Homo sapiens: one gene and its partner. The protein of the gene in region 2 purifies or fractionates together with the protein of the main gene of each other region. This does not show direct contact. Each region holds a gene or a part of one and is shown on either strand. Other genes may lie near its edges.

What was found. The genes of interacting proteins can lie anywhere in the genome.
Region 1: the proteins of RBMS1 (region 2) and SARNP fractionate together in Homo sapiens (co-fractionation; one large-scale study listed by BioGRID). This does not show direct contact.

The regions. Positions count from the first base shown.
Region 1 is NC_000012.12:55,800,705-55,804,226, forward strand, and holds part of SARNP (SAP domain-containing ribonucleoprotein), read right to left. Parts: intron 3,025-3,522; coding exon 2,925-3,024; intron 197-2,924; coding exon 150-196; intron 1-149. UniProt on the Homo sapiens protein: Binds both single-stranded and double-stranded DNA with higher affinity for the single-stranded form. Specifically binds to scaffold/matrix attachment region DNA. Also binds single-stranded RNA. Enhances RNA unwinding activity of DDX39A.
Region 2 is NC_000002.12:160,368,290-160,371,811, forward strand, and holds part of RBMS1 (RNA-binding motif, single-stranded-interacting protein 1), read right to left. Parts: intron 1-3,522.

The DNA of each region.
Region 1 (3,522 bases), on a different chromosome or scaffold from region 2:
CCAAAATAAACCAGTCTCTCAGAACCTTCATACCCATCTTATGCTCCCCTAATAAATTTACATCTAAGTCCTCCAATGACTGATGTTAAAGCAATGTGGCCAAAGCAGTGGCACATTACCAGAGACTAACCTTACTCTATCCAACTCACCTCTGTTTCATCTCCCAGTACATCTTCTTCATTTGCCTCCTCTTCAGCTAAAGAATATTAAAATATTCAGGTCAAGCCCTGCTACAAAACCATCTTGATCACTTACCAAGGTTAAAATTATAATCACTTTGCTTTCCCCCAAAAAATCCAACAGTGAAGGCAGAAACTGATGCACATAAAATCTGCTACATCTGGAGAAGATAAAACCAGATTTCTACCTAACATTAATTACAAATGTGAACTCCAGTTGGACTGAAGAACTAAATGTGAAGTCAAACTAGAGAATTAATTTTAAAAGTAATGTTGGGCCAGGCACCGTGGCTCTCTGTAATCCCAGCAATCTGGGAGGCAGAGGCAGGTGGATCGTTTGAACCTAGGAGTTCAAGCGACCAGCTTGGGGAACACAGCGAAACCCCGTCTTTACAAAAAACATAAAAAAATTAGCTGGGTGTGGGGGTGTGCGCCTATAGTCTTAGCTACTGGGGAGGCTGAAGTGGGAACATTACTTGAACCCAGAAGGCAGAGGCTGCAGTGAGCTGAGATCATGTCACTGCACTCCAGCCTGGGTGACAGAGCAAGACCCAGTCTTGAATAACAAACAAAAAAAGTATGTGGAAAAGTATCTTTGAGATTTAGTGGTGGGGAAAGATTTGTTTAAAAGAAAAACAACCCAGAACCAAAAGTAAGAGGTGAAAAATTGAAGATTTTTCAAAACTAAGTACTTCTACTTAAGGATAGCACAAAGAAACTTAAAAGACAAATGACAAGACATTTGTTTTTGTTGAGACAGAGTCTTACTCTGTCGCCCAGATAAAGTGCAATGGCACAATCACAGCTCCCTGCAGCCTCCCCCTCCTGGGCTCAAGGGATCCTCCTGCCTTAGCCTCCCAAGTAGGTAGGACTACAGGTGCACATCACCACACCCAGCTAATTTTATTATTTTTCTTAGAGATGGGATCTCACTATGCTGCCCAGACTGGTCTCAAACTCCGGGCCTCAAGAGATCATACCACCTTAGCCTCCCAAAGTGCTGAGTTACAGGCATGAACCACCCCGCACAGCCAAAGAAGATATTTGTGCCTAAAATCAACAAAACAATAGTTATTAGAATATAAAAGAAATGCCTGCAAGCCAACAGGCAAATTATGGGAACCTCAACAGAAAAATGGGCAAAGAAGAAACCCAAAGAATTGTGAAATGTTTAAACTTTTTTCATGGAGAACATAAAACAGCCAACAAATTAGCAAAACTTAGGCCACTTGATAGGACAGTGCCAAGTTTAGGTTTGTGAAGATACAAGAACCCTTATGTACTAGTAATGAGACTGCAGATCTACAGAGCAATTCTGGAAAATAATTTGGGAGTCCTTAGTCACATTAAGTATATATTTATGAATATTAATTAGCAATACCATTCTTGGGCATATACCCCAAAAAGACTTTCACAGGAACATAAGAGCATAAAATAAGTAGTTCATAATAATATACTATATACTATTAGTATATAGGATATAGTATACTATATCCTACAGGTTAAGCATCACCAATCTGAAAATTCAAAACCTAAAATGCTCCTAAATCTAAAACTTTCTGAAGGCTGATATGATACAAGTGGAAAACCCCACACCTAACCTCATGCAATGGGTCACAGTCAAAACTTTGTTTCATGTACAAAATTATTTTAAATACTGTATAAAACTACTTTCAGATATGTGGATAAGAAACAAATAAATTTTGTGTTTAGGCTTGGATCTCACCCCCAAGATATCTCATTATATATATACACAAATATTCCAAAATCCGAAAAAACTAAAATCTGAAACACTTCTAGTCCCAAGCATTTCAAATATATAACACTCAACCCATAGTATAATATATACTATATACTATTATATACATATAGTATACTATAAGTAGTATCACTTATAGTAGCAGAGGCTTGGTGGCAATAAAATTTTCTGTCACCGAGTGAATTAAGTAAAATGTGTGGTTATCCATCATTGAATGCTATGCAGGAATTAGAATCAACAGACTAGATAACTACACAGTCACATTCCACATGGACGCATCTTTAAAAAAAAAAAAACACAATACTTAGTGAAAAAAATGAGAAATAAAGCAAGGCTATGGCCAGTTATGTAATTACCAATTATATAAATGAAAACATTCTACAAAACAACACTACATAGTTTACCAGGAAAAACACCAAAAAAATACATTCAAACACATTAGAACGGGTGCCTAAATGGGTTGGGGAGAAAGTGAAATGAGGAATAGAAATAAAAGGGAATACGTAAATAAAAATTAGATAGAGGACTTGTACAACCTAAGATGTAGGTTGTACAAGATGGCTGGGCGCGGTGGCTCACAACTGTAATCCCAGCACTTTGGGAGGCTGAGGCGGGTGGCTCACCTGAGGTCAGGAATTCTAGACCAGCCCAACCAATATGGTGAAACCCCGTCTCTACTAAAAATACAAAAATCAGCCAGGCATGGTGGTGCTCGCCTGTAGTCCCAGCTGCTTGGGAGGCTGAGACAGGAGAATTGGTTGAAGCCGGGAGACAGAGGTTGCAATGAGCTGAAACTGCGTCACTGCACTCCAGCCTGGGCAACAGAGCAAGACTCCATCTCAAAAAAAAAAAAGAGAGAGTTTTCTTGATGCCGTTAATTAAGAGCTTACATTGCTAATGACCTGAAAAAAAAAAAAGAAATCTTTTCAGTGTCAAAGCCTGAAAATCCCCTCACTCACATCACTCCGCCTCCACAAAGTACTCACCATGTTCTTCAAGATATGCCTGGAGTCTGTGGATAAGATCTTGCTTTATTCCCTTGGTCTCCAAACCACGAGCAAGACATTCTTGCTTTAGTTCGGCAAGCTGAGGGGAAAAAAATAAAACTTTTCCTTAGTTAACAGGATGAACACCAGTGAATAAAATGGTAGTTCCCACAAGGAAAAGAAAAAAAGAAAATGAAGTTCCATCCCAAATTACTGCCCTTAATTCTACCAAGGCTCTAGGTCCACAAAGATGATCCATTTTCCTCTAACGATATTCAATATACAAGAGGAACTGCCTAACAGATGCTGAAGAATAAACATCACACTTTAATAAAAAACCTCATCTATTTGTATACCTACTAACTGTCACAAATCTCTAGTTATTTCTAAATATTCTGAGGGGGGAAAAAGGTTTTTTTCTTAAGACTACTGTGGCAGCCAGCATATTGGAAGAATGAACCTTCAAGTAGAAAATCCAATGATCTAAAAGCAGATTCTCCTTACCACTTATTATCCCAGATCCGTTATTACAATCTACCATATACATGCATACAGGTCTAACCACCATAGAATTAGGTAGATGCATTAGCTAATGTGA
Region 2 (3,522 bases):
TTTTTCACCTCACATTTTCTAAATCATAAATATACTGTACTAACTCAAGGACATCACTCATGAACAGTTTGAACATCCAAAATTAAATAGTCACTAGACAGTCAAAAGGTTCAAATCTCATGGCTTGGTTTTTACCAGCACAAACAAGAAAGTCAGGCATGTCTATAGGAGACAAATCAAATCCCACAGTGGAAAGTTGGAGAAGCAGACCCCTTACAATAAGCATATCCTCATTTACCTTGTCACCAACCTCCGTTGCCCACTATAGATTCCTAGTTTTGTACCCAGCTTCTGCCATGGTCATCCTAATTCCATAATATCTCAACATATGGGGATCTCATTAATTTATTTTTATTTTTTATTATTTGAGATGGAGTCTCGCTCTGTCACCCAGGCTGGAGTGCAGTGGTGCAATCTCGGCTCACCGGAACCCTCCACCTCCCGGTTTCCAGTGATTCTCTTGCCTCAGCCTCCTGAGGAGCTGGGATTACAGACGCACAACACCATGCCTGGCTAATTTTTGTATTTTTAGTAGAGACAGGGTTTCACCATGTTGACCTGGCTGGTCTTGAACTCCAGACCTCAGGTGATCCGCTCAACTCGGTTTCCCAAAGTGCTGGGATTACAGGCATGAGCCATCGTGCCTGGCCCCATTAATTTAGATATGTTACCATTTTTTCTGGTCCTATATCCTTCAGATTCTTCCTTCCACTGCCCAGGTTCCTTGCTGAGATATCATCTGAGTCCAAACACCACTTTATTTAAAGAGATTCTCTTTTAGAAGGAGAGCAGCAAAGGGTCAATAATAGTCAATGCAGAAATGCTATTCACTGAAGGCTGAACTTGAACTGGGAACATCGGTATTGCTTAATCCCAAAATAAAAGCAGCCTGAGATCATATCCTACCAAATCTATTTGATTCATGCCCTTAATGAGCAGCTGAACTCATATCCTTTCTCCAAACCACTAGTTTTTCTCTAGGGGCTAACTACTTACTAGATATAAAACTAAGACCAAATTCTGACACTTGCTCTGCCACAGGTGGCACCTCAGAGCACTGGCCATGCCCCACAAAGCCTGTGCTCCTTCTCTGAAGCCACTGAGTTGCTACCTGCCATCCAGCCCTACTCTATTTTTCACATCAGTGAGAACAGAGGTGCTGGAAAGTAGCCCACACACCTGCCTCCTGTCCCAAGCCTTTGATTGACGCAGAGAACTTGTAGCTATTAGAACTAGACAGGACTGAATTTTCTCTTAAACCTCCTTTGATTAGTGTCTCAGAAACCATCCCTGACACAAGCCACACTGTTTTCACAGTAGGACCCAGTATGTTTAGCGTAGCTGTTGGGCGATGAAATGTGGTCATCTGGGATGAGACTTGGAGAAGTCAGTAAGAAGCTGTGGATCAGGCCCGCCCCTACCTCTTAGTGGGATTACATCAACACGAAGTAAATGAACCATCAGGCATTTTAAAGACTGCATTCCAAGACTGCATTCACTTGAACCTTTGATTTTGCCAGGAGTGGAAAGGGAGTGGCGGGCATGCACTTGTATAATTAAAGAAACATTTGGATGTATGACTTAGTTGGAGATTATTTAGACATGAAAGTAGTAGGTTTTTTTATTTATGTATTCATTTCTGGCCAAAATACAGCTATGATTTACATATCTGAATTTACAGAGCCAGTTTAATATAAATTTGATGGCCATCCATATTTACTGCAGTATTTTCCCAATGTGGGAAGCAGGTACAGCCTGTGCTTCCCTGCTTCCCCTGTTAAGTTTCCCCTGTGAGGGAATGAAATCTCCCAGCATCTGATCCCAGGCAGAAGAGGGTTCCTAAATGTACCCAATGAGGACTACTAGCCTCTGGTGAATCCTATACAGAACAAAGTTCAAATTCAAATTTTATTTCCAAATCAATTCTTTCTTGGGGCTAACTGAAGACAGAGAAAGAAAACTGAAAGAGAGAAGCGTTGAATTATTCTAGGTTGTCAATTTTTAATTTTCTGGTGCAGAAATTTTTAAACCCAAGATTACGTTTTTAGAAGTCACTGAAACTGGGCCGGGCGCAGTGGCTCACGCCTGTAATCCCAGCACTTTGGGAGGCCGAGGTGGGTGGATCACGGAGTCAGGAGTTCGAGACCAGCCTGGCCACCATGGTGAAACCCCGTCTCTACTAAAGATACAGACTCTGCTGAGTACTTTACATACATTACCATACTTAATTCAATCAGACAGGCAGGTAGGTTATTGTTCTCCCATTGTGCAGATTAGGAAACCGAGTCTCAAAAAAGGTTAGGCCATGTGCCAGGGCCACACATTTAGAAGGTGGCAGGGCTAGAATTTGAACGCAGGTCTGCTAGAAAACAAAGCCAGAGCAGAGCCTTCAAACAGTACTCTACGTGGGACCCCAAAACACTTTCTATGTCCTGAATGCTCTATTTGTATTCTTTCATTTTCTGTGCCCATCATTTTTGCTGACTAATTACCAAATTCCAGCTTCTCTGAAATTTGATACTTAATACCATTGGCAGATATGTTTTTTAAGAAAGTAAAAGGTGCCTTTAATGTTTTTTAAGAAAGTAAAAGGTGCCTTTAAGTTGACTTAATTAACACACAGTCTGTTAAGTATTAAAAAAACAAAGATTAGCTCTTAAAAAAATCAGTTTTAAAAATTCTACTTTATAAAAATCTTTTCATTAAAGAATAAATTCTACAAACAACTTCTGAAAGCTTCAGCATATTACTGCTAAACATTAGAGTCAACATTTTAGGATGACGTGACTTAAAACAGTGAAAAATTAAACCCTCATTCATAGATTAAAATGCAAATACTGACAAGCCTTTAATTACAGCTTCAGAACTCTGATAAATTTACAGCAATTACACTTTGCGTTAGATTAGGTGTCTTGGCAGCACAAATGATAAACAAATTTTTAAAAAGCTTACAAAGGGACAAAAAGGGACAATATTTTAGCCAGTTCCATTTTCATCACTGGTAGTCCTTCTACATTTTGCCTCTCAAAACCCGGAAGCTGCCTTGGAACGTGAAAAGACCCTCTATGGATGAAGCTTGCAACTATTTACACACATTCAATCTAATTAGGGGACCTGGTGGCTGGATAAGCATGCTAAGTGCCCACTCATCCCAAAAGAGCCTAGTAGTCTCTCAGCCTTCTCTAGCCTAATTTTTCCTGTTATCAGGTCAGGCAAACAAACTACATTCTTCTATCTCCAAGGGCAAAGAAAACAAGCTAATTCAATTTTCTTGATAATATTTATATGGGCTTAATTTGCATGCCAAAATGGATAGAAAACAAAGTCACTCGTGAATAAAGGGGTGGTTGTATTAGACCCTCAGCCTTTCCTGCACGAGTGGTTTGGCACCATCAGGAAGAGCGTTCATCAGCACTCAGAGAGAACTTCCCGTATGGACAGCACTCAGAGAGCACGTCCTGTGTGGGCAGCATTCAGGGAGGACTTCCTCTATGGATAGCAATCAGGGAGCACTTCCTGCAT